Regions from separate parts of the Homo sapiens genome. Here regions 1, 3, 4, 5, 6 and 7 are each reported to be linked to region 2. Evidence: microRNA targets listed by miRTarBase, many of them from high-throughput screens and not tested one by one. Region 2 holds a microRNA gene; each other region holds the end of a gene's coding sequence.
What was found. Region 2 holds the annotated microRNA hsa-miR-4735-5p (CCUAAUUUGAACACCUUCGGUA, at 2,840-2,861, opposite strand). A microRNA usually pairs through its seed, bases 2 to 8, with sites in the 3' UTR of a target mRNA and lowers its output. Matches are read on the target gene's strand: a 7mer-m8 pairs with bases 2 to 8, a 7mer-A1 pairs with bases 2 to 7 and ends in A, and an 8mer does both.

Region 1 (4,309 bases), not on the chromosome of region 2:
GTTCTGCGTTCTTGTGAAGACTTATCTCAGGCATCAAAGTAAACCTTGCCCTGTCTGTTAGTACTTTGTAGCAGTAGCAATTATTATGACTATTTACAAAGTGCTTTTTAAAAATTTAGTAGAATGTTGCTATCCCTGTTTCACAGTTGAAAAAGCAAACTCAAGGAGATTAGTACTGGTAACATACTTGCATTTAAAAGGACACTGAACCCTCATTCCCTCCCATCACATGCCATTCAAGGACTCTAGACTATTGGGCAGAGGAAGTGATTCTTTTACCATAAATGGGGCTTCTGGGCCCAAGTTAAAGGCACACTCTCTGCCCAGCTGGTTTTGTCCTGGATTGTTCTTTTTTTTTTTTTTTTTTTTTTTAACAGGGTCTCAATCTGTCATCCAGGCTGGAGTGCAGCAGCATGATCTCAGCTCACTGCAGCCTCTGCCTCCCAGGCTCAAGCAATCCTCCCACCTCAGCCTCACATGTGGTTGGACTACAGGTGCATGCCACCAGTCTCCACTAATTTTTGTATTTTTAATGGAGACAGGGTTTCACCATGTTGTCCAGGCTGGCCTTGAACTCCTGGGCTCAAGTGATCTGCCTGCCTCAGCCTCCCAAAGTGCTAGGATTACAAGTGTGAGCCACCGTGCCTGGCTGTTGCTCTGGATTGTTCTTGAATCATCTCTCTAGTGTGTTGGAAAGACTTCTGACCTGGATCTTAGACCTGGTTTAGTATTCCTCTCATTGCCTGACATGGACCAATCACCATACTCAGTCTGCTTTGTCCACAATTTAGATCCCCACTACTTAGGTTGCAGGAGAGGATGCTAGATATGAGTCTGTTTTGCTCAGACCCTGGTGCACTGTGTATTTGTTGTCAGAAGAAAAGTTTTAAGATACAGGAAGAGGAAGCTTGCCCAGGGATGTTTAATAGGATCTTGTAAACATCTGTATTCTAAATAAATAATTGTTAGTGTTTCCACTTTTGGTTTCTTAATTTTAGAGAACCAGAAAGACTGTTCCTGAACTAGAGGTAAGAGTTCAGAAGTGTATACCTGTGTCATCCCAGGCTGGATTAGCAGGTGTAGTTATCAGCCTTTCCAATATCCATCTTTCCCTTCTTCCTTACGAACAGAACCCTAATTTTGCTCAAGGCAGCACTATGCTCATTTACAAGTGCCCCAATTCCCAGACTCCCTTGCAGCTAGGAGTGGCCATGTGACTCACTTTGGCCAATGTGATGTAGGTGGAAGTTGTTAGGTGGGGGCTTCCAGGAAATCTTTTTAGAGAGGAAAGTCTTAGCTGGCATTTGCCCTATGCTTTCCCTCCCTCTTTCTCTTCATTTTGTTTGAAAGGCAGATGCAGTGTCCAAGTATCCATGAATACAAAAGCTGTGTACTACAGATAGTAAAATGGGAAGATGGAATGACCCCAGCTCCTTGACAACATTAGGGAGCTACTCTAACAGCCCTGGATTACCTACCTGGTGATGTCTTACTTAAACACAATCAAGAAAACAAAGAAACAGCCAGGCTGGTGGCTCACACCTGTAATCCCAGCACTTGGGGAGGCTGAGGCGGGTGGATCACTTGAGGCCAGGAGTTTGAGACCAGCCTGGCCAACATGGCGAAACATTGTCTGTACTAAAAATACAAAAATTAGCTGGGTGTGTTGGTGCATACCTATAAGCCCAGCTACTCAGGAGGCTAAATCAGGAGAATCGCTTGAACCTGAGAGGCAGAGGTTGCAGTGAACCAAGATCATACCACTGCACTCCAGCCTGGGCAACAGAGTGAGACTCTGTTTCAAAAAAAGAAAAAAGAAAAAGAAAAAGAAAAAGAAAAGAAAACAAAGAAACAAGCCTATTTGCTTAATCCATTGTAATCAAGTCACTCTTCCATGCAATCAAACACAGTCTTAACTGATAGACTATTAAAATGGTGTCTTACTCTGTTTGGCTGCTATAACAAAATATCTTAGATTGGGTAATTTGTAAACAACATAAATTTATTGCTCGCAGTTCTGGAGGCTGGTAACTCCAAGATCAAGGCACCAGCAGACTATGGTGAGCCCTCAATCTGGTGAGGGTCCATTCCTCCCAGGTGCTTCCTATGTATCCTCACATGACAGAATGGCAAACAAGCTTGCTCAGGCCTCTTTTATAAGGCAGTAATCCCATTCATGAGGGTGGAGCCCTCATGACCTGGTCACCTCCCAAAAGCCCCACCTCCTAATATCACCACCTTAGGGATTAAGTTTCAACATATGAATTTTGTTGGGGGCCGGGGTGTGGGCGGGGGGGATGGGACACATTCAGGCCATAGCAGACATCTAGTGTGCTATGATAGTAAATGAATGCAAATTGAGTGTAGAGTTTGTTAGAACAGTGCTGCTCCAACTTCCACGTGCATATAAACCGCTTGAGGGCCTTCTTAAAAATGCAGGTTCTGATTCACTGGGTCTGGAACGGGGTTTGAGATTCTGCATTTCTCACCAGGTTGAAGCTAATGCTGATGAGGCTGGTCCTGGAACACACTTTGAGTAGCAAGGATTTAGAAAATGGCAGCTCTCCTGGTCAGTCAGCTCCTACCACATAGGAGCTATTATTTTGTTTCTCTTTGATATGTTTCTTATTTCGTTAAAAACCTGCAGAGAACTCACTCAGTGCATCTTCAACAAAAAGTTAAGGTTTTATTTAGAATATCATTTTAGAGACAAAAAGCAGTTCACTTTATTTAGCAAAATAAACTTAACCAATGCATTTAAATATAGTAAATTCAAGAACTTTGGTGGTTTTTTTTCTTAGATGCTTGCTTTTTTGCCAGTTGGAGTTTCTGTCTTCTGGCCCAACAGGCTTCTTTCCAAGTTAATGCAGCTATATTCCAAGGAAGTGTTTTATGAAATCTGAATACTCAAACACCCCTTCTGTATTTTCACTCAACCATCATTGTATTAGATGATACATAAGGAAAGTGACTTAGGGAAGTAAGTTCAGAAGGAAATGTGTTCCCTTCTCCCTCATATTATCTTTTCAACAGAGGCCTGGATTGCTAAATGGATTATGAAAGCAAATTGCTACTGGGAGGTGATGGTCAAAAGCAAACTTAGATGGTTTTCACACCATCTGTCATCATGACTCAAAGGGAAATGCTAGCCACACCATTTTTCCAGTGAAGCCACTGCTTTACACAGAAGATACACATAGCTTCCTATTGTTATTTTCTTTTCTAATTATGTACATTTAGAAAAAAAATACAACACTGTGTTAAACAGCAGGACAGCTAGCAATGGAACATACAACACTATGCTGAAAAACCACAACAGCTTGGTTAAGCGGAGGAGAGAAACAGAGATGGCCTTCATGGAGTGAAGCTGTCAATGCCTGCCATCTCCTTAGTCTGTGACGGATCTGCACTCTGAGGGCAGGCCTTCTGAGCGCCGCCACTTTGCCAGGCGCTGCTTAAACCATTTCTGGAAGAGAGAAATGAGAAAAAATATTTGTCACATACAGAAAAACTGAAATGCCTGTTCCCTTTCTAAAAGGTAGCCTCTGTGGCACAAGTGGAAAGGAGAGAATCAAGGAATGTTCCCATAGGGATGGTTCTCACTGTGACACTAAACTTTCCTGCCTCAGGACCTTTGCACATGCTATTTCCTATGTTTAGAATATTCTCTCTTTATTCTTTATCTGATGATCTCCCTGTCATCCTCACATCTCAGCTTAAACAGGACCTTCTCAATGAAGCCTTCCCTGATCACTCTATCTAAAATGGGTTTCCCACTCATCTCCTTACTTCCCAATTTAGTATTTTGTTACTTTCACAGAACTTTTAGCATCTGTCATGATTTACTTGTGTATTCACTTGTTTTAAATCTATATTCCCTTCTAGAATGTAAGATCCATGAAAGCAGAGACTGTATTCATCCTATCACCATTGCATCCTTAGCCACTAGTACAAAGGTTTAAGAGTTAGAAATTAATCAATATTTGCTGAATAAATAAAAGAAGTTAAAGCATCTCCTTAATGCCCCAGATAGATCTCTATGGCTGCTGTATTTCATCAATGTATGCTCAGCTCACCAAAGGCCTTCCTCATTGGTAGCAGTTAGTAAGAATTTGTTGAATAAGATTAATAGGTAACTGAGCGCTGCACAACCTCAGAGCACTCCTTGGGGATGCATGGAGTAGGCCAGCCCAATCTATCCTGCTCCAGGGCCACTGAGCAGTGAGAGAAGCTAAAGTGGGCCTACCACTTTACTCAGAATCTCTCAGCTCCGTATGACTCAAATATTCACACCTTACAGAAGTGACCA
Region 2 (4,309 bases):
CTCCCCATAGCTGAGATTACAAGCATGTGCCACCACACCTGGCTAATTTTTGTATTTATAGTAGAGAAGGGGTTTCAACATGTTGGCCAGGCTGGTCTGGAACTCCTGACCTCATGTGATCCACCCACCTCTCCCTCCAAAAGTGCGGCGATTATGAGCATGAGCCACCACACTCCTCCCAGTTAAATTTTTAAAAAGACCTACACTAAAGTACAGCATCATGAAATATCAGAAAAGTGGTGATACAGCTTTCATTGGTGATACAGCTTTCATTGGCTGGAAGCAAGTCTCATTCGAATGTTCATGGTCCTCTCAATAGAAACATGGAAAGATAAAAGAATGGAAAAATGGCTTCCACATTCTGACAGAAAATAATTTTCCAACCTAGAAATGTTTCCATTCATGTGGAAAGGTAGAATAAAAAGATTTTCAGACATGCACAAGCTCAAAACTTTTCCTCCTGAAACCATTTCTAGGGAAGCTTCTGGAAAATGTGCTTCACCAATACAAAAGAATAAACAAATCCAGCAAATAGGACACTCAAGTAAAGAAAGTGAAGAGCATTCCTAAGATAATGGATTTATTATGAATGGAAGTCCCAGCTCCAGAAATACTAAATGGAAGAAATAATAGAATGGAAGCCCCAGCTCAACAGAGAAAAAAGTGATAAACAATCCCACAGAAATGTGGGTACAGAATGAAGCTTGAAGATGGTTCAGTGGGAGGGGAGGGAGTTCCTGAGTAACTCCACAGAAGAGAACCACGGAGGATCTGAGAGTGTTTCTTTCCACAGCATAACCTGGACCTTCCCCACAGGTACACTGTCTGATGTGTTTGATTACCCTGAGAAAGGCTTTATAGTTCTACCACAGTGCTTGGTGAAACACTATCAATAGGTAACTAGAAAACTTAGCAGACAACAAAATGAAAATGTGTATATACTTAGAAACAAAGACAGTTGAATAAGAAAATGATAATCATAATACTCATTACTCAGTTCTGAGCAAAACTGAAATAGTCATATAATATGCATACATGGTATTGCTCTAAACAAAAATAATTACTGTATTGGAAGAATGGGGAGTGAGATGTGTGTTGTGATGGTATAGTTAGACTGCTAAATCCTTATATTTCATAGTAGGAAGTCAATGAATACTCCCTCAAATTGAGAAACTGTGAAACTGACTATAGAGAATAAAAGCAGGGAAAAACACTCAAAAGGCTTCAAAGTGTTTCTTTCTGAAAAGTACATCATGGAAAAGCTGACAAGGTGAAGGCAGGGGCCAGATGGTTTTTGTTATTGTTGTTTTACTTGTTCTTGTTTTCTTGTAAGCCTTCTAATAATAGCTGATTTTTGAGCTATGTACAATCATTATTTTGGCAAGAACATTTTTTAAAGAACAGGTAATTTCTTCTCAAGAAATCATCTTGACTATAGCTGCTACAGCTATTTACAAAACGTACAGTTTTTTTTTCAGAAAATTAAACATTGAAATATTAGTATATATGTGATATAGTCATTCTTTTAGCATTTTTACCTTTCTGTACCACATAGGCTTAGAATAAGATCACATAAATGCTAATCTGTGGCAAGAAAATATGGGTCAGATTGTAGTGTTTCGCTTTTTTTATTGTCATAGAAAAATTATTCTTACATGATACTTGAGGAGTAGGAAATATTTATTCTTAGAAGTTAATTTTGTAACCTCCAAATTCCATATGCCTATAAATATCTAGATCTGGACCAGTTTAGTAAAAAAAGTTCTATTTTTATATATGTGAAATACACATGTATATTCCAAACTAAGCAAAAATAAAACATTAAATTTAATAAAGGGTTTTACTTGCTCTTTACTGAAAATGAATGCCACCGGGTGAATATTGCCCCATTTTTTTCTGTCCCTTATTCCCTGAGGCTATTCCAAAATTTCAATATAATGAAGTTAACACAATACAAAGTCCTCTCAGTGGCCGACTCACTCTAGAGACATTCCACAAGTATCCTAAGGAGATGGGGGAAAGATGGAGGGGAAACTGTTATTAGTAAGAACATATTTTCTTTCATTTATTTATAAAAACTTTCCAAAAAGAGAAAGAAATCCCACTCAAGCATAAATTAACTTCAGTTCATTTTAAAAGTATTTACTAAAAGCTGTCATAAAAATATATCAAATTCACTTTCTTCCATTACTTATGTTTTGAAAACTAAGTCTTTCATTTTGTTGTTCTCCTATTTAAATTATAGTAGATGTGTACAACATGAATAGACAGATGACAGCTGGATAATAGGCATCACAAATGCCTCTATGTTCACATTTCAGGAAAATTATGTCTTTCATAAGAAAATTCTGTGGGAGAACCAATAATACTGCCAGTTCTTCAGGTAGACTTTAAAAAGTCTTATCATATATTTCAAAACCAACATGTATGTATTTAATATTTACTTATCAACTTCTCTCCATATGCCAGTACAACGCCAACTTTTTTAGGAAAATCAACAAAGACCCTCATCTCCACCTTCCCTTCCTACATCTTAGTATCCCCTTCCAGCAAGCCTAATGGCCAAGAAAAACAGGGTTCAAGTTCCTGGCTCTGCCATTTTCTAGCTTTGTAATCACCAACGGATTACTTAACTTCTCTATGCCTGTTTCTTCAGCTGTACAATGGGGATAATATTATGCTTTCTCGTTGGGCATGTAAAGTACTTGGAAGAATGCTAGTAAAAAGTAATGTTATATGCATGTTCTCTTAAGGAGCTAAAGATCCATGAATAGATTTCAACTTGACATGCGCAAAAAATGCAATGTCTAATTTGAGCACCTTTGGTATTTTTGATGAATACCGAAGGTGTTCAAATTAGGCACTGCAATTTTATGCAAGCAGGGAAGATAAACTTGCAGAAGTGGAGCTGAGATTTTTAGAAGTTTGGAAGGGTTGGTTAGAATGATAGAGGGCAAGTTTTGTAGCTGCCTTATAAGGTCAAGTTCCCAATTTCTTCAGTCCTGGCCACTACCTTAGTGCCTCCACAAACACCCAAGATACAGCAGCATTGACAGCATTGACTAGGCTTGGTTCAAACACTGAGTCCTTTGAATTATTCTCTCACCACCAATTCATTTACATTTCAGTGATGCATCAGGCAAGGATACAGATGAACCATGTCACCTGCTTCAGCTTGTCCAAACTAAATAAAGTAGAACAAATAGAGTACAATAAAGGTTTGAAAAGCATAAAATACAGAAGATAATACAGATTGCATAGGATTATAAAATATAATTATACAGGATTATAAAATATAATTATACAGGATTATAAAATACAGAGATTTGCATAGCGAAAAAGCCTTCCTAAAATGCTGAGATAAAGATTATGTAAGTGATAACTGGTCAAAAAATAGGTGAATATCATGTGACATGTAGAGGTGGAGTGGGATGTCTTCAGAGGTTGTTATTCATTCCAGAGAGAGGAATTGTCCAATGGCAGCCAGAAGGAAGACCTGAGGCAGAAAAATTAAAACACCTCTCAAGAGTTCAGATGAGAAAGGCAGGCACATTAATTAGAAGCGTAATAATTAAAATGGACTCATGAGGACAACAATTTGAGCCATCTATGAATTGAATCAATGAGATCTGTAGTGAACCAAGCTTTAAAAAGAATTTAATAATCCAGCCTTGGGTGGCTGGTTGCATGTTGGTACCATATTTAAACACAAAAAATACCAGAGGGTAAATAGTTTCAAAGAGATGACAAAATTAATTTTGGACACTGTGGATTGAAATGTCTGCTGAACATGAAAAGACACCCAGTGGAAAGCAGTCTATATAGTTTTAGAGCTCTGCACAGAGAAGTAAGACAAATATCATGATTTGGAAATCATCAACATATAATTACATTTATTGAAGTTTAAACAAAGCAAACTAGAAATGAAAAGAGCAAAGAACCAAGGAAGAATCCTTGATAAAACATAATTTTTAGTGCTAAATAAAAGAAGGGAAGACTGTAAAGGAGAACTAGGATAAGATGAGTAGGACATAAAACAAAGAAGAATGATATCATAGAAATCAAGAGAAGGAAGTTTCAAGAAAGAGGAGGAGAATCAGAAAAAAAAAATTGTTCATTGGACCTGGCATGAAAAAGATCATCAGAAATTTTAAGAGAAACGTAAGTAGAGCCATAGGGCAGAAGAAAGAATGCACAAGATAGAAGAGTAAATAAGAGCCAGGAAAGAAAAGTTCAGGTTAAAAATGGGTGGAAAGCATGGAAATATATAGGGTACTGAAGGTCTTGATGATATGTAAAAATGAATCAG
Region 3 (4,309 bases), not on the chromosome of region 2:
AAAGGAAGAAAAACCAAAGCAAGATCCCGGAGCCATTAAGTCCTCACCAGTGGATGCCACTGCACCCTGCATGTGCGAGGGACCTACCCTTTCTCCAGAACCAGGCTCGTCTAACCTGCTCTCCACCCAGGATGCAGTAGTGCAATGCAGAAAGCGCATGTCAGAGACAGAGCCATCTGGGGACAACCTTCTTTCTTCAAAACTAGAGCGACCATCTGGGGGTTCTAAGCCTTTCCACAGGTCAAGGCCAGGAAGACCTCAGAGCCTAATCTTATTCAGTCCTCCTTTCCCCATTATGGACCACCTGCCCCCTTCATCCACAGTGACAGATTCCAAGGTCCTGCTGTCCCCTATCAGAAGTCCCACCCAGACAGTTTCCCCTGGCCTTCTTTGTGGAGAGTTGGCAGAAAACACATGGGTCACACCAGAAGGGGTTACACTTAGGAATAAAATGACCATCCCTAAGAATGGCCAGAGACTAGAGACCTCAACCAGCTGTTTTTACCAGCCTCAGCGGAGATCAGTAATTCTGGATGGAAGAAGTGGGAGGCAAATAGAATGATTTCGGTTCACCTGCTGGTGTCTGAAAAAAACCGTGATTCATCTGGAAGTTATTACAGGGCCAGCTTGCCATATTCCAGGCACACGTTATCAAGTTTGGGCCTATTGTGGCCTCTGACTTCTCTTTCTTCAGCCTTTTGACCACTTATTAATTAGTCCATTTGCTAGAAGAGTGGTCAAGGGAAAAACGAGAGATGAAATTTAGTTAAGTCTATGTGAGCAAGTGAGAGAAGGTTAGGTAAGGGGAGAGGATGGAATGCTTGCCTCCAATGAACTTTGGAGCTTGTATGTGAGTCAGATTGCTCCCCTATTGCTATTATCTATTACTCTTGAGAGCTGGCTGTCCTTTGAAAGAAAGAAGTAATGTTCTTTGAAAGAAAGAAAAATCTCTTGCTGTGTCAAACCTCAAAATGTTGCTATTGGGGTTAGAAGGCCTCCTCTTTATGCTTTTTAATGCTCTTTCAAACGTGTTCTTTTAGACCAGTTTTCTAATAAGCTTTGTAAAATGTACTATCCAAATTAGAAGCGGATTTGGAAATGCAAACTAACGTGCACTTAGATATCCAAGTGGGTGAGCTTAGCCACTCTTACCCATGCTCTTTCCCTGGAATCCCTGGAGACCTGTCCAAGATGATTTCCATATACCAGCATAGAAAATCAGAATCAAGAGCAAACTCTGAGACTGGCACAATCCAAGAAGATTTCCTGGCTCTGGCTTTTAGTAATTTGGGACTCCAACTGCCACTGTACTGGACTGTAATTTATAAATCCAGTAGCTACGCAGGGTGGAGGCTGGGCTGAGGATTACCATAATGAAATGTACTAAATCTTCATTTAGGTATGCAATTGTGAAGTGAAGGCATCTGCTTTCTTTACAGTATCAGAGTCCAAGAACAGGATGTCACCATAGATAAAAGCCTCATACAAAGGCAGAACTACACTCCAAATTTAATGTGTTTAAATTGGTGGGGCACCAGCAGAAAATATTCTAGCTCAGCTTTACTCTTCTTCCACACTAGGCTGGGCCCAGCAATACAGGAGAGGATGAAGGGAGGAGCTCCAGGAGGCGAGGGAAGAGCCCTAGCAGGGCGGCCATCACAACCACTCACTGAGAGTTGCCCTTCTTAAAAATGTATTTTATTTTAGCCAGTGGGTCCCTTCCTTTCTCCTTTCCTCTCTACTGCTCAAGAACAGATTTGAGGCCAGGTGCGGTGCCTCACATCTGTAATCCCAACACTTTGGGAGGCTGAGATGGGTGGATTGCTTGAGCCCAGGAGTTCAAGACCAGCCTGGGCAACACAGCGAGACCCCATCTCTTAAAAAATAACAGACTTGAGGAACCCCTCTCCCTTCCATAATTCCCCTCATCCACCGCCCACTCCAGGCACTCACTCAAACTTGCTCTTCAACTCTGTATACAAGCAGAAGCAATAAACCAATCTGATTTTCTTTTCAATTATTTATAACTTTCAATGGTTCTTTCCTTTCCAGCTGGCGAGAGAAAGGAGAACTAATATACCTGCTGGCAGATTTTTGGTGCTGCCCAAAAAAGGACTTCACAGGGCATCTCTTCTCAGGTTCAAGCCTGGCTGAATTCTGCCCAGAAGCTCAGTCATTGCAGAAATTTCTCTAAGGGCTGATAGTACCTCTGGGTAGGCGTCACAACCAAGGCTGGTTCTGGGCTTAGTGGGGGCTGAGATGAAGTTACCTCCTCCAATGAGAAATTGGGAGCTGATGCCCTGCAACAGATATATATTCCTCTCTCTCTCTGTCTCTCTATCTCTCTCCTCCCTCTCCCTCCCTCCCTCCCCGCCAATAAGCCTTACAAACAGTTTTGAAATCTTGTTCTGTACCTTTTAAGCCAGTGTCTGTGGCGAGGGTGACTGGCAAGTCAGCTGATGAGTTCTGCCTTCTGAGAGCACTGAGTGAGCAAGGCCTTTCATCAGTGTTTTGGCCTTCTCATTGGGTGAGGAAGACATTGAACCAACAGCCAACGAGATATGAACCTGTAAGAAAAAAGTCCTAGAATATAGTATTTTTCCCCAGGCCAGCAAAGTGAAGAAATACAGTGGTGACAGATGAGAAAGGCCATGTTCAAGAGATCTGAAAAGTACATTCCTGCCTTATCAGAAAATGTGTCAGACAGGTTTTATGTCAGCCTCAGTGCTCCTGCGGTGTCGACGCTCTGATAAGGACCATGTTCCAGTTAGAATGCGAGGGAGGGAAAGAGCTGCACTTTGCTTCACCATCAGAACTCTGAGCCAAATAATGAATATGTAAACTATTTTATGATTATTTTAAATGTTTGTTTGGTAACATTTATAAGATCTATTTTTATTTGGGGATAGACTGAGAAGCCACCATTTACATATTAACAAGTGACTTCAGTTCTAAGGGTTGAGATGCCTGTGTGGATTTATAAAATGGTTGCAAGATCTTTTAGACTCTGACATTTATAGCATCACCTTCAGGAACACAGTTCTGGGGATGTCATCATGAGACACACTGACAGCTGTGGAGATAGTCCCTACTCTCAGCTTTCCTTGCTAGTCAAGTCCAAAAGGCCTTAGAAGCTGACTCACCTTCTCAGCCAGAGTCCTGCTGCTCAAGTGTGGACCTCCACTTTGACTCTCACCCAGCCTGCCAGCCATCACAAAGGCTTTCATAAACTTCCTGTGGTCTGGGCTAGCCTGGCACTGATGAAATTCCATTCTAAAGAAAGAAAACTCATATTCCTCCCCCCCACAAATTGTTCCCCCAAATGCTCTGGGATTACCTATTTCACCACTCATTTGAGTCTCCGAAAAATGAACTCCCTGAGAATGGCTGGATGGGAATCAGATAGTCTGCTTCCATTCAGGAGAGGGACAGAACAGGAGCTGCTGTGTTTAGGAGGATTTACCTGGTGCCCTAGAAAGGGCTATGCAATCAAATTCTCAAGGGCTCCTTCAAATCAGCTATCAGTCCTCAAAATGGGGGTTGCTGATGTTAAATGATGGATTTGCAGTGAAACGCATGCATGTACTGACGTTTTCTTTCAGCATTAGTGGTTGCTTAAGAAAATAGTAACCTATATTTTCTGCTACACTTGGAATATGAAGAAATCTGAACAAGAACCCCATTAAGACACCTAACCTAATCTAAACCCTAAAATTCAAAATATTGTCCAAGTCAAAAGTCTAGACTCTGAGGACATTAAAAATGTAAATATCATCATCCTTAGCAAATATTTATTGGGAGCTTAGTAATAGTGCACTGGGTACCTTAGCACTCCCAAATCATTCAAGAGTCTAGTGAAAAAGGGGGAGGGATGGCAGCAAATAAAACACCCCCATAAACAACCAGGAGCAAGGTTGAGAACCATTAAGTTGCCAAACAAAAGCAGAAGGGGAAAAAGTGTGGCAACAAGCATCTTTTAATAGGATAGTTGACGGTATTCAAGTGACCTACTGACTCCAAATAATCAAATTGAACACAATTGCAAATCCAATAGAACATCCCAGTGAGACACTCGGGTATTTGAGAACTTTGCTTGATTTAGAAAACTGGAAAGTGGCAACTAGGCTAGAATAGTGGCAACTAGGTTCGGAGGTTTCGTGTGGTCATAATTGGTTTGGTGAAGTGTGAGATCTCTGCAAATGAGCCAGGTAAGATCAGTATTCCATAGTGCTTGAAAAGGGGATTTTAGAGACTTCTGTCATCACAAAGCAGATTAACTCCTAGTTAATGATGAAGCAGTAGGCCCAAG
Region 4 (4,309 bases), not on the chromosome of region 2:
AGCTGACTGCCTCTCTCTGCCTCCCCTCCTGTCATTCAATCTCTGTCTCCTACTCATCTATCCCTACCTCCCAATCTCCTCCCTCCCCAACATTCATTGTCTTTCTGCCCATCATCTCTGTCCGCCACCTGTTTCCCCACCTCCCTGTGTCTCTCTTTATCTGCATATTTTCTGTCTCCCCCATATCTCTGACCCTGTCTGTACGTCTGTCTGCCTGCACATCTCTTTCCCCCACGTGTCTGCGTCTGTGCCCCCGCACTTCTCTTCCCATTTCCCCACCCTTCTTTCCTTTCCCATGAATGTCTCTCTGGCCCTCACATCTGCTTTCCTGTCTCCTCATATCTCTCCCCACATCTCTCTCTGTTTCCTGACACGCCCTCCTGCCACCTTTGCCTCCCTGTTCCTCACCGTTATCTGTCTGTCTCTCCCGCAACTTGCTTCGTAATGTTCCCCATCTCTACCACTTCTTTGCCTTAGACAACAGCCCAGACCCTTGGACCTGAGGAATCCCAAACCTTCACCATCATCTGTGGAGGGCCTGACATAGCCATGGTCCTTGCCCAGGACCCTGCACCTGCCACAGTGGATGCCAAGCCGGAGCTCCTGGACACTCGGATCCCCAGTGCATAAGGATCAAGACAGACAATGTCGAGGGACAAAAGATAGAAGATGGAGGAGGAAAGACATTATACGTGGGCTTGGCCCAGCCCCACCGCCCACGCCTGGGTAGTAGCAGTGCCTCCCTCAAGGGCCTGGGTTCTACCACCCCACTCCTAGGGATCTCTTGAACCTTAGGGGTGACCTGGGCCCAAGTCTCTCATCAGCCCCCAATCCCCTGGGTACCAGGCTTCTGCCACCCCCGGCTCAGATCTTTGCAAATCAGTACGACAGCCTCAGAGCAGAGCAAGGGTTGTTTGGGAGAATCATACCTGGTTCTAAGGAGTCCCACGCTTTTTGCCAAGCCTGGTACTGAGTTCATGATACCATGGTGGACACAGCTGAGAAAATCCCTGCCCTCATGGTGCTCATTCTACTTGAGTAGACGATGAACTAGTAAACAAATAAACAAGAACACTGCAGACATGAGCGATGAGTGCTATAAAGACAACAAAAATTTGGTTTGGGCCTGGGGGAGGGCCCTCCAAGGCCATGTTTTAGCAGAAACCTGGGTGATCAGAAGGGGCTGGCCTGGAGCGCTACAGGCTCAGGTTCCAGAGGACGAACAACCCCTGCAGTGAGGGCCTGCTGTCTGGGATGTGTCAGGTCTGGGAGGCGGTGTTGCTATGGAGAAAACCATAGTAGGGAAGGGAGGAAGGGGTGCAGTTTTAGAGCAGAGAAGGTGAAAAGACACCAACAAGTAAGATCCTAAAACAGGGCAGAGAGGGAGCCACGTAGGGATTTGGAGGAAGAGCATTCCGGGCATCACAAAGAGCCGTTGCAGGCCAGGCACGGTGGCTCACGCCTGTCGTCCCAGCACTTTGGGAAGCTGAGGCAGGCAGATAACCTAAGGTCAGGAGTTTGAGACCAGCCTGGCCAACATGGCGAAACCCCGTCCCTACTAAAAATACAAAAATTAGCTGGGTGTGGTGGCACAGGCCTGTAATCCCAGCTACTCGGGAGGCTGAGGCAGGAGAATCACTTGAACCTGGAAGACAGAGGTTGCAGTGAGCAGAGATCATGCCACTCCACTCCAGCCTGGGGAACAGTGAGACTGCCATCTCAAAAAAAAAAAAAAAAAAGAGCCAGTGCAAAGGTCCTGGGGTAGGGAGAAGCAAGGAGGCCAGTGTGGCTGGGGTGGAGTGAACAAAAGAGGGTGAGAGGAGGTGAGTGCAGAGATGATGGGGCAGGTTCACATAGGCCCTTGTGGGCCATGGCTGAGAGCCTTGGCTTCTACCTGGAGTGAGGTGCAGCAGGCAGACCCCTCTGAGGGAAAGAGGGCTCCAAAGTGACAGGTGTTCATGGGTCCCTGTGGCTGCATGTTGGAGGAGGACGGGGACAGCAGGTAAGAGGCTGCTGCCGTAGTGCTGGTGGCAGAAGAAGAAGGATGGACCAAGATGAGGGCCCAGGGTAGCGGTGGGGAGAGTGAGATCCTGGAAATCTTTTGGAGATGGAGCTACTGGACCTGTGCATTAGAAGGATGAGGTGTTCAAGGCTGTCACCCAGCCCCATCCAGGCTGGGATGATTTGAGGCAGAGCAGGCTACAGCTCCAGGTGGGAAGCCAAGCCATGACAATGGAGCCAGGACCCTGGGCTGGCTTCAGGAGGCCTCCGTGGGGAAGATACAGGTTCTGAGAGAGTTGGAGGGGTCAATCGGCAGATCTGTTTCCCAGACACTGCTACAGGCATGTAGCATGGTGATTAAGAATCAAAGCTGGGCATGGTGACTCGTGCCTGTAATCTCAGCGCTTTGGGTGGCAGGGGCAGGAGGATCCCTTGAGGTCAGGAGTTCAAGACCAGCCTGGGCAACATGGCAAAACCCTGTCTCAAAAAAAATTCTCCAGACATGGTGGCATGCACGTGTGGTCTCGGCTACTCGGGAGGTTGAGGTGGGAGGATGGCTTGAGCCCAGAAGTTTGACGCTGCAGTGAGCCAAGATCACAACACTGCACAGTAGCCTGGGTGACAGAGTGAGACCCTGTCTAGGAAATAATAAAAATAAAAATCAGACTTTACAGACTGTCTGGTTTCAAATGTTCGCTCCATCACCTACTCATGTACTTTTGGGCAAGCTGCTTAACCTCTGGGCCCCAGTGTGTGAGCCTCGCATTATGATGGTAAGGATGAGATGATCATGATAGGAGTCTCTAGGAAATCACCCCTCTGAGGCACCCATTATGAATGGTGAGCTTGGAGAAGGGGTCCGGTCTAGGGTCCTAGAGAGAGGGTCCCCTAGAGGGTCCCCATCGTCACCACGCCCCAAGACCACTGCCCTCACCGGCCTGGTTTGCAGGCGTGGGGGAAGGGGATGGAGAAGATCTGTGTCCGCTCTCTCAGCCCTCTCTTTTGCCGTTGTATCTGCTCATCTCGCTCCTTTCCGTAGCCATCTCTTCCTCTCCCAGTGCCCGGAGGCTCTCCCCTTTCAGTCGCCGCCTCTGGCCCCTCCATCAATGCGAGCGCCTCCCGGTCCCTCCTCCTGGTCCCTCCTCCCCCGCCGCCGGTAGGGGGGCAGCAGGCGCATGCGCAGTCGCGCCCCTCCCTCTCCGCCCCCACCCCCTGTCGGCGTCTGGGCCTCGTCCCCTTCTCTCTGTCTCCCTTGCCTCCCCCATCACGTCCCCTGACACCGACACCCCATTGCTCCCACAGTCTCCCCAGTCTCCACTTTGGTCCCCAGCGCTGTCTGCCCGAGGTAAGATGGGGAGGGGGCGGCCCGCGGAGAAGGGGAGGGGCGAAGCATCCTGAATCCCGAGATAAACAAACCCGGGGAGGGGGCAGCCGCGACTGAGGGGCCTGACGCGGGAGGAGAAGAATGGGGGGCTGGGCCTGGGGGAGGTGGCAGGCGCTGGGCGCACACACCGGGGCCCTCTATGGGTAACGGGGGTCCCTATGGTTGCCCAAGATCCAGTTGCGCGGAGGCCACCCGGGGCCCTGGAAGCTCCTAGGGGCTTGGACCCTGGAGCCTGCCGGGCACCCTCTCCAGCTGACCTCTGCCTCCAGGATTTGCCTGAAGGCTGCCCCCAACTCTGCACCCGCCCCCCGAGGGCCACCGAGGACCATGACTAAGACAGATCCTGCCCCGATGGCCCCGCCACCCCGAGGAGAGGAGGAAGAAGAGGAGGAGGAGGATGAACCCGTCCCCGAGGCCCCCAGCCCCACCCAGGAGCGCCGGCAGAAGCCTGTTGTGCACCCCTCGGCACCTGCCCCCCTCCCTAAGGACTACGGTAACCACTGTCCCCACCCTGGAATCTGGCCTGGAGCGTTGGGTGGCCGGGGAGGGTGGGCTGTGCTCTGCTGGTGGTGATGGTGGGAGAATTCTGGGGAATTTGAAGGTGGTCCAGAGGAATCTTGGCTGCAGAGCACCCCTCGTTAATTCATTCATTCACCCATTGGAGAATGGAATTGTAATACTCCTAGTCTTTGACTCATGACACATCATTCCATCATTTAGTCATTCAACAATCATTTTTTGAAAGCGGCTGTGGACCTGGCTTTATGCTAGGGGCTGGGGCCACAGCAGGGGGCAAGAGAGACCCAGTCTTTGCCCTGAGACAACTCACAGGCCTCAGTAACAGCCACACAAATAGGTATTAAACCATAATGTAATTTTTCACATTTAGGTTTATATGCAAGAAAGAAAAATATAATGTAATAT
Region 5 (4,309 bases), not on the chromosome of region 2:
ACCGGAGCATCCACTCGGGGGAGAAACCGTACGAGTGCAGCGACTGCGGGAAGGCCTTCATCCACAGCTCGCACGTGGTCCGGCACCAGCGGGCGCACAGCGGGGAGAGGCCCTACGCGTGCGCCGAGTGCGGCAAGGCCTTCGGCCAGAGCTTCAACCTCCTCCGGCACCAGCGCGTGCACACGGGCGAGAAGCCCTACGCGTGCGCCGACTGCGGCAAGGCCTTCGGCCAGAGGTCGGACGCCGCCAAGCACCGCCGCACCCACACCGGGGAGAGGCTGTACGCGTGCGGCGAGTGCGGGAAGCGCTTCCTGCACAGCTCGAACGTGGTCCGGCACCGGCGGACCCACCACGGGGAGAACCCGTACGAGTGCCGGGAGTGCGGCCAGGCCTTCAGCCAGAGCTCCAACCTCCTCCAGCACCAGCGCGTGCACACGGGGGAGCGGCCCTTCGCCTGCCAGGACTGCGGCCGCGCCTTCAGCCGCAGCTCCTTCCTCCGCGAGCACCGCCGCATCCACACCGGGGAGAAGCCCCACCAGTGCGGCCACTGCGGGCGCGCGTTCCGGGCGCTGTCGGGCTTCTTCCGGCACCAGCGACTCCACACGGGCGAGAAGCCGTTCCGCTGCACCGAGTGCGGCCGCGCCTTCCGCCTGAGCTTCCACCTCATCCAGCACCGGCGGGTGCATGGCGCCGAGTGAGCCGGGGCTGCGGCGGAAGAGATGCCGGCGGCCTGGTGGGCGCGAGGCCGAGGCCGGGGGAGGCTCCTGTCCGCCCCGTGCGCGGTGAGGAAGTAACAGCCGGCTGCGCGCCTGGTTCTCGGGTTGCGAAAGCCTCGCCAGGCCTGCATCCGCCTTGGCTTGGGAGCAATCAGGAGAGACAGGGCTCGGGGAAGGCGAGCGCTGCCCGCGGGAGGCGATTCCCAGAGGCGGGGAGGTCTCAGGGGTCTGTCCCGGGCCGGCCGCCCGCCTCTGAGACTCCCCGCCTCCCACGGTCAGCTGCTGCGGGGCAGTGGCCGGTGATTGAATCGGTCATTCCTCCGCAACCAGGCCTCCATCAAAACCCTGCATGAGATGAGGGCCTCGGGCTTCGGGTTGGTGAAGGCGGGGTGGGGGGGCAGTTAGGAAGGGGGCGCCCAGACAGGGCATGGAAGCCTCGCGTCCTCCCCCGTACCTTGCGGGTCGGTGGTTCATCCATGTATTTCAACGCCTTTTCACAGCCGGTTCATATGGTCCCGACTTCTGTGTGCTTAGAAAATTATGGAACTTGGCCGGGTGCGGTGGCTCCCGCCTGTAATCCTAGCACTTTGGGAGGCCGAGGCGGGCGGATCACACGGTCAAGAGATCAAGACCATCCTGGCCAACATGGCAAAACCCCCATCTCGACTAAAAATACAAAAAATTAATTGGGCGTGGTGGCGTGCGCCTGTAATCTCAGCTACTTGGGAGCCTGGGGCAGGAGAATCACTTGAACCTGGGAGGCGGAGGTTGCAGTGAGCGGAGATCTGGGCACTGTACTTTAGCCTGGGCGACAGAGAGACCCATCTCAAAAAAAAAATTGGAACCTGAGAAGGGGGTCGTGGGGTCCCCGGGGCCCACCGTCTGCACTTGGCATCTGAAGTCGGGGTGGTCTTGTGGGACTGACCCCTTACCCTGTGGGTTCTGCACTAGCTCCGGGCAATTGGTGACAGAATCGAGTTAAATTGTAGGACATCGCGTTGGTGTCTGAGAGGGAGTTGGAGAGCTGGTTGGTGTGGAGGGAAAGGCTTACACACATGTGATTTCAGAAGCGTTCTGTGGGTAGAGGAATCGTTTTCTCTTTGAGACTGTTATGAGTATGTACAAATGTTATTTCCTGTAAAATATTTTCATTTTTTAAAATGTTATTTTCTAGATAGAAAAGTAGAAGTGTCTCTTTGGGGAGCGTTTTTGGGGGCGTATAGTAAAGCTCTGTCATCATGAATTAAGCGAGGTGGGCTTTGAGTTTCTTGGGATGACAGGGAAATGTGAGCCGCCTACTGGCCGTGAGCCCCTGGGGTGCGGTTGCAGGATTCGCCCATCCTGGTCTGGGTGTGGCTTGTGACCACCTCCTGCAGTTCTCTGCCCAGGTAAGGACTAATTGGGAAGAATTCTGGGTCCTGAGCTGGCTGCCGCTTCCAAGACAGTCGCTTTGAGGGCTCTTGGCACCGATTTTGTTAAAATGCATGAGCTTAGGGTTGTGCAGCCTGTAGGGGCAGGGGTGGTCTCAGAATGGATTTGGTGGCCCCACCGTTAATTAAGCTCCTGACCCCTGGGCCGGTGGTGAGGTGGGAAGATGAGCCTGTGTCTCCCATGCTGAGCCAAGATCCTCAGGTACCAGTAGCGGTCAAAGCACCTGCTCCCTGAAGGAAGCTTACCTGGCTTAGCCTCATTCCTGCTCGTAAGTCAGGCATTCAGCTTGCAAAGATCCCCAAGCACACAAGGAGAGTCAGCTGACTGAGGGCCAACAGAAACAGCAGGCAGCCGCTGTCAGCCACAAAGAAACGCAGATCCTGAAACTGTCATCATACAGGTGAGAGGATAGTTATGTGTGAGGTGTTCAAAGAAGTCGCGCAGTCAGTGATGAGAAAGCTGTAGGGTACATACTGTCACGCATGAATAGGCAGGACTCCTTAAAGAACTTTTGGAAATGAAAAACAGGCCAGGTGCAGTGGTTCATGCCTATAATCCCAACACTTTGGGAGGCCTAAGGGGGAGGATCACTTGAGCCTAGGAGTTCAAGACCAGCCTAGGCAACATAGGGCTGGGCACGGTGGCTCACGCCTGTAATTCCAGCACTTTGGGAGGCTGAGGCAGTGGATCACCTGAGGTCAGGAGTTTGAGACCACCCTGGCCAACATGGCAAAACCCCATTTCTACTAAAAATACAAAATTAGCTGGGCATGGTGGCCCACACCTGTAATCCCAGCTACTCGGGCAGCTGAGGCAGGAGAATCCCTTGAACCTGGGAGGCAGAAGATGCAGTGAGCCGAGATCACGCCATTGCACTCCAGCCTGGGCAAAAAGAGCAAAACTCCATCTTAAAAAAATAAATAAATAAAGGAAAATGAGCCGAGTGATGGTCTTAGATATAAGATGGAATGGCAAGCAAATAAAATTATAAATATGAATACATATGTATATATAAAAGAATAGTGTCAACTAAAATACTAGACAACAATAGCATGTAAATTAGAAGGGACAGAAATGTTCTAAGACCCTCCGGTTGTTGGGAAGAGGGTGTAAGATAGTGTTTAATTTGACTTTGATAAGTTAAATGTGCATAGTGTAATTTAATGTTAATTACTAAAAGAGTGTAACCAGTCTATACATCTCTAATCCAATAAAAAGAATAAAACACTGTGATTTAAAATGTAGTCCCAGCTGCTTGGGAGACTGAGGCAGGAGGATCTCGGCTTGGATCCTCAGACCAGGAGTTTGAGGCAGCAGTGAGCTACGATTGTGCCGCTGCACTCCAGACTGGACAACACAGTGAGAGCCCATAAAATAAATAAATGAACTGAACACAAACTTCTGTCAATTAAAAAATAAGAACGAAATCAGGCTGGGCCTGAGCGCTGTGGCTCACACCTGTAATCCCAGCACTTTGGAGGCCAAGGTGGGTGGATCGCTTAAGCCCAGGAGTTCGAAACCAGCCTGGGCAACATAGGGAGAACCTGTCTCTACAAAAAATACAGTAAGTAAGCCTATAGTTCCAGCCACCCAGGAGGCTGAGGTGGGAGGATCACCTGAGCCTGGGAGCTCGAGACTGCAGTGAGCTGTAGTCATACCACTACACTCCAGCCTGGGCAAAAGAGTGAGACCCTCTCTCAAAAAAGAAAAAAAAATCAGAAACAAACTGGGCAAATTAAGATGGTGGAAACAAAACTAAATATGTCCCTAACGACAGTAAGCTGTATAGAATTGCCGGTTGACAGGTAAAGGTTAGGACTGGGTGCAGTGGCTCATGCCTGTAATCCCAGCACTTTGGGAGGCCGTGGTGGGTGGATCACCTGAGGTCAGGGGTTTGAGACCAGCCTGGCCAACATGGTGAAACCCCGTCTCTACTAAAAATACAAAAATCAGCCAGTTGTGGTGGTGCATGCCTGTAATCTCAGCTACTCGGGAGGCTGAGACAGGAGAATGGTTTGAACCTGGGAGGCGGAGGTTGCAGTGAGCCAAGATTGCGCCACTGCTCTCCAGCCTGTGTGACAGAGTGAGACTGTCATACACACAAACACACATAAAGATTAGGAGGAAAATCTGTGACCCAGAGTCACACACATGAAGACAGA
Region 6 (4,309 bases), not on the chromosome of region 2:
AGGACCTGATGGCTTAATGCTGTGTGCCAACCATGCCATGCTGGGAAGAGCATTGTTTCTTGAAGGGAGAGCTGGGTGGCTCAGCTCTGTGTCCACCACAGGGTGGGTGGGGGAGGGTTAGCAGGTGGCTGGCGGGAGGCAGGAAAATGTTCCCTGAAGGCAGCTGAGTGGGGCCTGTGGTCTTCAGGCATGTTGACAAGAACATCTGCTCTGTCGTGAAGGTGTATGAGAAAAGGACTCTGTGATCTCCTGAACCTAGGAAAAGCCACTAGCTGGGGAACTATTTCTAGGCCACTCCTAAGCATATGTAGGGCCTGCCTGACATCTGCCCTGCTCCTTAGCACTCAGCTTGTATTAGCCCATTTTGTATTATTATAAAGAAATACTTGAGGCTGGGTAATTGATAAAGAAAAGAGCTTTATTTTGGTTTATGGTTCTGCAGGTGGTACAGGAAGTGTGGGGCTGGCATCTGCTTCTGGTAAGGGCTTCAGGAAGCTTCCAATCATGGTGGAAGGCGAAGGGGGAGCAGGTGTGTCACATGGTGAGAGCGGGAGTGAGAGGGAGAGTTGGGGGAGGGACGTGCCACACTCTTTTAAACAACCACATCTTGAGTGAGCTCAGCGAGAACTCACTCATCACTTCCAGGAGGGCACCAAGTCATTCATGAGGCAACTTCCCCCATCACCCAATCACCTCCCATCAGGCCCCACCTCCAATGCTGGGGATCACATTTCAACATGAGATTTGGAGGGGACAAACATCCAAACCATATCACAGCTTACACTGTGGATGTGAACACAGCTGTACACATACACAAAATTTTATTGTAATTTATACTAAAAACCAATCTCCCTACAGCTCCTCGGGGGACAGCTCGCCGGTTTTCTCATTTGCTCCGTTCTGGGACTCGGACAAACGGGGCACAAGGCCTCTTTCTGCTGATACAGGTGGGTCCCAAGTCTGCATTTCCTGTCTGGACTCAGCATCACCAAGGGTTACATGATAGTCTTGAAGGAATGTTGCTCAGAATTTCAGGCGACTGGTCTGGAGGAGAGAAGGGGGCAAGTGCTTACCTTGAACCCGTGCAGGTGGACAGATGTGTGGTGGAGGCATTTGAGGGTTACCTCAGACCACATGCTGACCCACGCAGGGCCAAAGTCGCTCATTGTGTGGAGGCATTTTGCGGTGGAAACACACCTGGATGCAGGGAGAAGGGCTGGGGCCTGGCTCATGCATCAGAGGGTCTCTCTGGTAAGCCTTCTTCCTCCGTGGGACTCTGGAGGGTCTGGAGGCTGTGGCCTCTCTCCTGGTCTCTGGTCAGGTGGCCAGCTGGGAGGACAGCTGCAGTCAGGCCAGCAGGAGAGGGACTGTGACTGTGCAGGTGAGAAGGGTGGTCAGTCTTCACCCTCAAGACCAACTCAGAAGGCAGCCATTTCAAAGCGTCTCAGGCAGCCCAAGCTTGCTGGCCAGTCCACAAGCTTGGCCAGTCATCTTCACTGTCATGGTTGCCCTGGGGCAATGCCCGTAGCAGTCAAGAGACAAACCCAAAAGGGAACTAGGTACTCCACAAAATAAGGCTTTTCTGGGGTCCATTTTTGAATGGGAGTGAAGGAACCAGAATTGGGTAGCACAGGTGAAAGTCAGAGGCTGAAGGGGAGGGCAATAGGAGCCTCCTAATAGCAATGGGGCTCCTCTGATGGCTGCCATTGCTTTGAGGTCACCCTGACAGTCTTGCTGAACCTTTCTTCGATTTTGAGCTTAGCAAGCTCCTACTGGACCTTCTCTCCTTCACTGGGGCTCAGCTTGCAGGGGTTCTAGAAATATCTCCACAGATCGCTCTTCCTCCCTGGGCCTCAGTTTCCTCATCTGCACAGTGAGGCCTATTAAGCCAGGTGTTCTGACTTTATTTTTATTTATTTATTTTGAGACGGAGTCTCGCTGTGTCATCCAGGCTGGAGTACAGTGGCGTGATCTTGGCTGACTGCAAACTCTGCCTCCTGGGTTCAAGTGATTCTCCTGCCTCAGCCTCCTGAGTAGCTGGGATTACAGGTGCCCGCCACCACACCTGGCTAATTTTTGTATTTTTAGTAAGGATGGGGTTTCACCATGTTGGCCAGGCTGGTCTTGAACTACTGATGTCAAGTGATCCACCCACCTCAGCCTCCCAAAGTGCTGGGATTACAGGCGTGAGCCACCGGGCCTGGCCTGTTCTGACTTTAAAGGTAGGGATTCAGAGGCAGAAAAGAGGAGGTAGACTGAGAGGTTCCTGGGGTTAAAGGCTGGCAGGGAAGCTGGGCAAATGTACAGAAGAGCCCCCTGCTTATGTTTCAGGGGCCAGGGCAAGAGTGTACATGGAAGCCTACATACCATGTGGCTAAATATTTAAAAAGCAAACTAACAAACTGTTGAATAAAGTATGTTCTATTGGTTGACCTTGAAAAAAGTATTTTTCTGATGAGTGACCTGTAAGGCCAAGTTTGAATGAAAATTCCTAGACTCCTTAGAGTCCCAACTCGGAGCATGCGGTGTGGAGAGAGCTGGTCCAGGGCCTCAGCTGTGGCTACAACAAGAATGTTCTCCCACTCAAGATCTCCTGCTCTAGGGAGCGGGGCTGACCAGGGACCCCTGCTGCTGTGCTCTGAAATCTATCTTTGCTGTTTCCGCCAACCACTGAGTGCAGCAGGGATGCTAACGGGGTCTATTTGTGGGAGACACGGGGCTCTTCTGATGGCTGCCTTTGTCTTGAGGACACCCTGACAGCCTTGCTGAACCTTTCTTTGATTTTGAGCTTAGCAAGCTCCTGCCAGACATTCTCTCCTTCACCGGGGCTCAGCTTGCAGCTCGACTTACTGGTCCTCCCAATCTTCTCCGGCTCCCTCCTTCTTTCCTTACACACAATCATTTCCCCTAACAAATCTTTGTTCCATTCACTCTATCTTGACACATATTCTTGGAAGACTTGGGCTAACACATTGGTCCCCCGCCGGCCCCCCTTTATCTTCTTACCCCTGGCTTCTTCCCACACCACGAGAAGCCCCATGCGCAGGTGTATGGAGCCTCAGGTACCAGGCTCTAGGTGGTGGCAGGCATGTCCCCTTGGCCTGCAGTCTCCTCATCCCGCGATGGTGTGGGGAGTGACGCAGGGCCATAGGGAGCAGGAAGGGGGCCCCTCTTGTCCGAGTCTAAAGTGGTAGTGGCAGGGAGCCTGTCCTTCCCCTGCCTTCCCTCCACTCCAGCCTCCTGACCTGAGCAGCTCTTTCTCATGCTCCCCGCCTCTGTGCTTTTCCAGAACACACTTTGTAACCACCTGGGATGGAGGTGGTGAGCATGTGTCCCAAGACCCATGCTTGGGATATATGCTCAGTGGTGGCTCCATCTGTGTCTTCTTTCACCCTCAGGAGAGTCTGGTGGAGAACAGAGGAAACTGAGGCTCAAAGACATTGAGTGAGCGTCCACACCCAGGTCTTCTGATGCCCACCGCGGGCTTTGCCAGGACGTCCCAGCCAGCAGAGACAGCCACGTGGTATCTCACAACTCCCCTCTCAGTCCCTAAGAAATGAGTGTGCCTTTCTTCTCATCTTTAAAAAAGAGCTGCTTCTTTCTACCTTGCAGCAACCCGACTGGGAGAATGGAGAGCCAAGCGTGTTGTCCCCAAGGCCAGCTAGACACCAGCCCTTCAGAACTTATCGTTATATTTGCAATCTGGGTAACGATAGGCAAATCTGGAGTCACACGTTCTCAGGGGCCTCAAGATGTCTTTCAGCTGGCTGGCGGCCCCAAGGACTTCTGGGTCTGGGCGGATGCTGTCCCCACACTGAACAAGGATGGAGTCTATGTCGTCTTGCACTGGGGAGGGGAACCTCCCCTGGAGAAGTCGAGGCAGCAACTTCTGACACACCAGCACCAGGCTCTGCTTCTCAGAGATGCTTTCGCAGGAGGGCAGCTGGGCCTGGCAGCCGGAAACCAGGCAGCTAAAAATGTCTTTATTCTCTCCTGCCCTGTTGGCTTCTTGGCTGCCTAGAAAAGAAATGGGAAGTATTACACACCCTGCCACCAGTGCTCCTTGAGGGAGGGCACCACTAATTAGAATTCCTGGGTGGGGCCGGGCGCGGTGGCTCATGCCTGTAATCCCAGCACTTTGGGAGGCTGAGGCGGGCAGATCACTTGAGGTCAGGAGTCCGAGGCCAGCCTGGCCAATATGGTGAAACCCCGTCTCTACTAAAAATACAAAAATTAGCTGGGTGTGGTGGCATGCATCTGTAGTCCCAGCTACTCAGGAGGCTGAGGCTGGAGAATCGCTTGAACCTGG
Region 7 (4,309 bases), not on the chromosome of region 2:
TTTTTACTCTAATTAACTATATTACAAATCATTGAAAAAGTTGGCTAAATCAGTGTAACTTTATTTTTCTCCATGTCCTGACCATTAGGTAGTTGAATTCAGTGAATTGGACAAACCCAGAGTCCGTTTTTTACGAAAAGTATTAAGTATCCTATTAATGGAAACAGAAGTTGAAGACCTCAGTTTAATTTTCACAAGGTATGTGCCCCACCCTTTCCGACGAGACATGGAAGAGAAATGAAGAGATTGTTTTCACTTGTGTTGATTTACAAACACAAGGTTGTACTATACGTGTAGCTTAATCTTTTCGGTTTTATTTTTAAGCTGGTATGCATTAGATCTGGGGAATAGAAACTTGTCTGCTAGCAAACTAACAATGATTGTTAATAATAAAATATGTTAAGAAGTTCTTAATTGAGAATTTTATTTTTAAAAGAAACTGGTTATGTCTCACTATGCGAGATACCCAGGATTGAGATCTAGGAGAGGCCAGCTCAGCCCTGACATGTGTTTATACGATTCCTTTCCAGAGTATCTGACAACCCAAAGCTGGGGGTGTTACGTGAGGGTTTGAAGCTTTTCATCAGCCACTTCTTGCTAAAGAACGCACAGGCCCACAGAAGCGCCGACGAAGCCAACGTGCTGAGAGAGAAAGCTGACCTTGCAACGAAGTGTCTGCAAGGAAAAGCTTCCCTGAGAATGTAGTCAGGGAAGGAAGGAGGGCAGGTGGCCCTTTGACTGTAAAATGTCCTTGGTAAACCCAAAGGCTTATTCTGTTGCCTGCGTGTGAATGTTTGGTAGAGCTATATCATTGTCTGTTAATGTATTATATTTTGAGATTTTTTTTGATCTAAGGTTTTATTGTTTGTATTTCAAGCCATTTTCAAATAACTATCTTGGGGGTGAGAGGAGAAGGAGGGAGGGAAAAGGGGTCAGGCACACTGGACAGGGTTCTCTAAGCAGTGAGGCTGGTGTGTATGATTGTCTTAAAATTTTTTAATAGATATGGCCGAGCGTGATGGCTCACCCCTGTAATCCCAGCACTTTGTGAGGCCAAGGTGGGCGGATCACTTGAGGCCAGGAATTTGAAACCAGCCTGGGCAAAACCCTGTCTCTACTAAAAATATAAAAATTAGCCAGGCATGATGGCACATGCTGGTAATAGCAGCTACTGAGGTGGCTGAGGCACAAGAATTGCTTGGACCCTGGAGGTAGAGGCTGCAGTGAGCCAAGATTGTACCACTGTACTCCAGCCTGGGCTGGACAGTGAGACTTTTGACAGTGAGACTGTCAAAAAAAAAAAAAAAATTAATAGATAAAACAGGCCACTAGAGGGTGCAGTTATAAAGAAATTGATGAGGTTTTTACCTTTTTAAAATATTGGTTAGAAGTTCAAAAACCATCCCTTAAAGGTGATTGTTTTTTTGAGACAGAGTCTTGCTCTGTCACCCAGAGTGGAGTGCAGTGTCCTGTAATCTCAGCTCACTGCAACCTCTACCTCCCGGGTTCAAGCGATTCTCCTGCCTCAGCCTCTTTAGCTGGGACTACAGGCGCACGCCACCACGCCCGGCTAATTTTTGTATTTTAGTAGAGATGGGTTTCACCATGTTGGCAAGGCTGGTCTTGAACTCCTGACCTCAGGTGATACACCCATCTCGGCCTCCCAAAGTGCTGGGATTACAGGCTTGAGCCACCACGCCCAGCTTAAATGTGATTCTTGATACTGTTTTAAGTATTTAGGTTGCAATTAACTTTGGCAAAGTCAGTCGACATAAGCCCTGTGGATATGGCCTTATGTACACTGTAATGCAGACAGGTGCTTTTCATCATTCATGTAACATTCTCACACAGTTGAGGATATTCATCTCCTCACCAATTCCAGATTGTAAATGTACCATCTTAAACAACTCTGAGGTCACCAAACAGTAGTTATTTGACTGTTAATAGGTGCTACTTGCTTGCAAGGATTTGGAGATGTAAACATGAAGAAAATATAGTTACTGCCTGCAAAGAATTAACATCCGTCTAGTGGGAGAAACAAACACACCCCACTCACTAAGTATGGAAAACTGATTCTGGGAGGAAGCAGAAATGTCCCTAGATAACAGCATGTATTGCAGATACCCAAATGTTTATTGTTTTCTCAGCCCTTCAATTTTGCTTTTCTCTCTCAAATGCTACAGACTCAATTTAAATCTTACCTTTGATTGTTGAAAAAAGTCACTAAGATGTGAATACAGAATAGACATTGAGAGGTTATATATGTCCAAAACTCATCTGTCCAGCAGTCACCGTCCTCTTCAGAGTGGTCACGTTGGGCAGATGGGCACAGGTGCTGGTGATGCCTCTCCTGGGCAAAACGCCCCATTTGTGGCACTTTCAGATACTATTTATTTACTTTTTAAGAGAGAGACAGGCTCACTCTGTCACCCAGGCCAGAGTGCAGTGGCACGATCATAGTTACCGCAGCATCAAATTCCTGGACTGAAGCGGTCCTTTTGCCTCAGCCTCGCGGATAGCTAGGACCACAAGCAGTAGAGACAAGATCTCCGTATGTTATACAGGCTGGCCTCAAGTGATCCTCTTACCTTGGCCTCCCAAACACCGGGATTATAGGCGTGAGCCCCCGTGCCTGGCCTCAAATTTTATTTTAGCTCGACCCTATGGCAGTTTGTGTTTGGAAATCGTGATGTGAAGTCATCAGTATCTGTGCATATCCCTAAACTAATGGTTTAAGCTTTGAAGCATGCGCAAGCAACATGAACAACTGAATACAGAAAGTAACTGAAAGCAGCACAGAGACTGTGTCGTCCCTACAGACTTCTAACCCTGCATTCAGCAACATCATTCGACCCGAAGCCAGATTCAAACCCTATGTCTTCTAGCAGGTTCTGAATTTAGAGGACAAATAAGGTGACAGGTACTAAGAGAAGAGTGAATTAAGTGAAAATCTTCCCTTTGTTAAGGAGCTTTTTAACAAGAGTGTCTTTGCTGGGTGGTGATTGGGATGTAACAGATCAGTTCTACTGGACTTGTAGCTTGATAGTGAAATAAGGAGCTTGGGCTAAGGTATAAATCAACACACTGCTTCCTTCCTCCAGAAGGTCTTACTGTGAAGGAAAAAATGTCAGTTGAACTAAATTGTGCTTCACGCCTCGGTAGATTTGCATTCTGATGCAAGCCCCCAACCTCACGGACCAAGAGGATCCCTGGCTGCCTGTGAATGGCCCACATTTGAGTGGTGCTAACTTGATGTGAGTAGGCATTAATTATGGGTGCGGCTACTAAGATGGGAAAAACTATCACGACAGTGGCACCACCTGATTTCATGATGTACCATATGCAGTAACCCATGTTTGAGGTACAGAATTGAAGCTGATTTTTCTGCAAAAGATGAATTTCTATAAACAATCCCATTTTTATATTTTATTATTAAAACAAAAATACCTCTCTTTGCTAGAGAGTTATATGTATGACTTAAATTATTAGCTATGGTTTGCATTTAGTACATGGCAGATTGCCTGTAAGTCTGTTCATTTTAACAACATACAGGGCTGGGCACGGTGGCTCACGCCTGTAATCCCAGCACTTTGGGAGGTTGCGGGTGGATCACTTGAGGTCAGGAGTTCGAGACCAGCCTGGCCAACATGGCAAAACCCCGTCTCTATGAAAAATATAAAAATTAGCTGGGCATGGTGGCAGGCACCTGTAATCCCAGCTACTCGGGAGGCTGAGGCAGGAGAATCGCTTGAACCTGGGAGGCGGATGTTGCAGTGAGCAGAGATCGTGCCATTGCACTCCAGCCTGGGAACAAGAGTGAAACTCTCAAAAGCAGAAACAAAAACCCAACATATATGGGCTGTTAGATAGTAATTGTAATTTCGTATAAATAGTAAATGAGTACATCTTGATTAAAAGCTATGAATTCAGAATTGCTTTTAAATATATAGGGGGTTTTTTGAAATTTATTACAGTGCAATTGAAAATACACTTAAAATACTGCAGGATGCTTAGTGCTCAGTGTTATGTATGAACTTGTGGACTTTACAATGCAGGTTGAGAACTGCTAATGTATAGAATGACTAAACAGCTGTCTTTCAGGGTATCATTTTTAAAGGTATAAGGAACAAACTTTAATGTATTGAAATGCATAAATAAAATTTATTTTTTATATTTTGTTTAGAGTAACAGTGAATGTTTATTTTGAAAGACCAGCTTGGCCGGGCACGGTGGCTCACACCTATAATGCCAGCACTTTGGGAGGCCGAGGCAGGTGGATCACCTGAGGTCAGGAGTTCGAGACCAGCCT

Region 1: miRTarBase lists HOPX as a target of hsa-miR-4735-5p. Seed matches in the 3' UTR shown: 7mer-A1 at 3,222-3,228.
Region 3: miRTarBase lists ARHGAP31 as a target of hsa-miR-4735-5p. Seed matches in the 3' UTR shown: 8mer at 1,078-1,085.
Region 4: the mRNA of THAP8 is a reported target of hsa-miR-4735-5p. The part of its 3' UTR that is shown has no 7-base or 8-base seed match.
Region 5: the mRNA of ZNF696 is a reported target of hsa-miR-4735-5p. Seed matches in the 3' UTR shown: 7mer-m8 at 2,905-2,911 and 8mer at 3,204-3,211.
Region 6: miRTarBase lists DIPK2B as a target of hsa-miR-4735-5p. Seed matches in the 3' UTR shown: 7mer-m8 at 2,070-2,076.
Region 7: the mRNA of NOM1 is a reported target of hsa-miR-4735-5p. Seed matches in the 3' UTR shown: 7mer-m8 at 1,130-1,136 and 7mer-m8 at 3,680-3,686.

The regions. Positions count from the first base shown.
Region 1 is chr4:56,645,332-56,649,640 of GRCh38, forward strand. It overlaps HOPX (HOP homeobox), which reads right to left. Exons shown (of 4, transcript NM_032495.6): 4 at 2,667-3,466. The coding sequence ends at 3,389. Among named protein-coding and RNA genes, the nearest start is that of HOPX, 34 kb to the right of the region's middle.
Region 2 is chr1:196,579,614-196,583,922 of GRCh38, forward strand. It overlaps MIR4735 (microRNA 4735), which reads right to left and starts at 2,868; the gene lies at 2,800-2,868. All of the region lies in intron 1 of KCNT2 (potassium sodium-activated channel subfamily T member 2), which reads right to left.
Region 3 is chr3:119,415,703-119,420,011 of GRCh38, forward strand. ARHGAP31 (Rho GTPase activating protein 31) reads left to right here. Exons shown (of 12, transcript NM_020754.4): 12 at 1-4,309. The coding sequence ends at 562. Among named protein-coding and RNA genes, the nearest start is that of TMEM39A, 46 kb to the right of the region's middle.
Region 4 is chr19:36,031,761-36,036,069 of GRCh38, reverse strand. It overlaps THAP8 (THAP domain containing 8), which reads left to right. Exons shown (of 4, transcript NM_152658.3): 4 at 478-1,086. The coding sequence ends at 630. CLIP3 (CAP-Gly domain containing linker protein 3) reads left to right here and starts at 3,197. Exons shown (of 14, transcript NM_015526.3): 1 at 3,197-3,346; 2 at 3,655-3,878. The coding sequence starts at 3,713. All of the region lies in intron 3 of LOC101927572 (a long non-coding RNA gene), which reads right to left. RefSeq lists a silencer at 298-471.
Region 5 is chr8:143,296,103-143,300,411 of GRCh38, forward strand. ZNF696 (zinc finger protein 696) reads left to right here. Exons shown (of 3, transcript NM_030895.3): 3 at 1-3,850. The coding sequence ends at 698. Among named protein-coding and RNA genes, the nearest start is that of ZNF696, 6.8 kb to the left of the region's middle.
Region 6 is chrX:45,147,976-45,152,284 of GRCh38, forward strand. DIPK2B (divergent protein kinase domain 2B) reads right to left here. Exons shown (of 5, transcript NM_176819.4): 5 at 398-4,017. The coding sequence ends at 3,677. Among named protein-coding and RNA genes, the nearest start is that of DIPK2B, 51 kb to the right of the region's middle.
Region 7 is chr7:156,968,999-156,973,307 of GRCh38, forward strand. NOM1 (nucleolar protein with MIF4G domain 1) reads left to right here. Exons shown (of 11, transcript NM_138400.2): 10 at 89-198; 11 at 531-4,178. The coding sequence ends at 705. Among named protein-coding and RNA genes, the nearest start is that of NOM1, 21 kb to the left of the region's middle.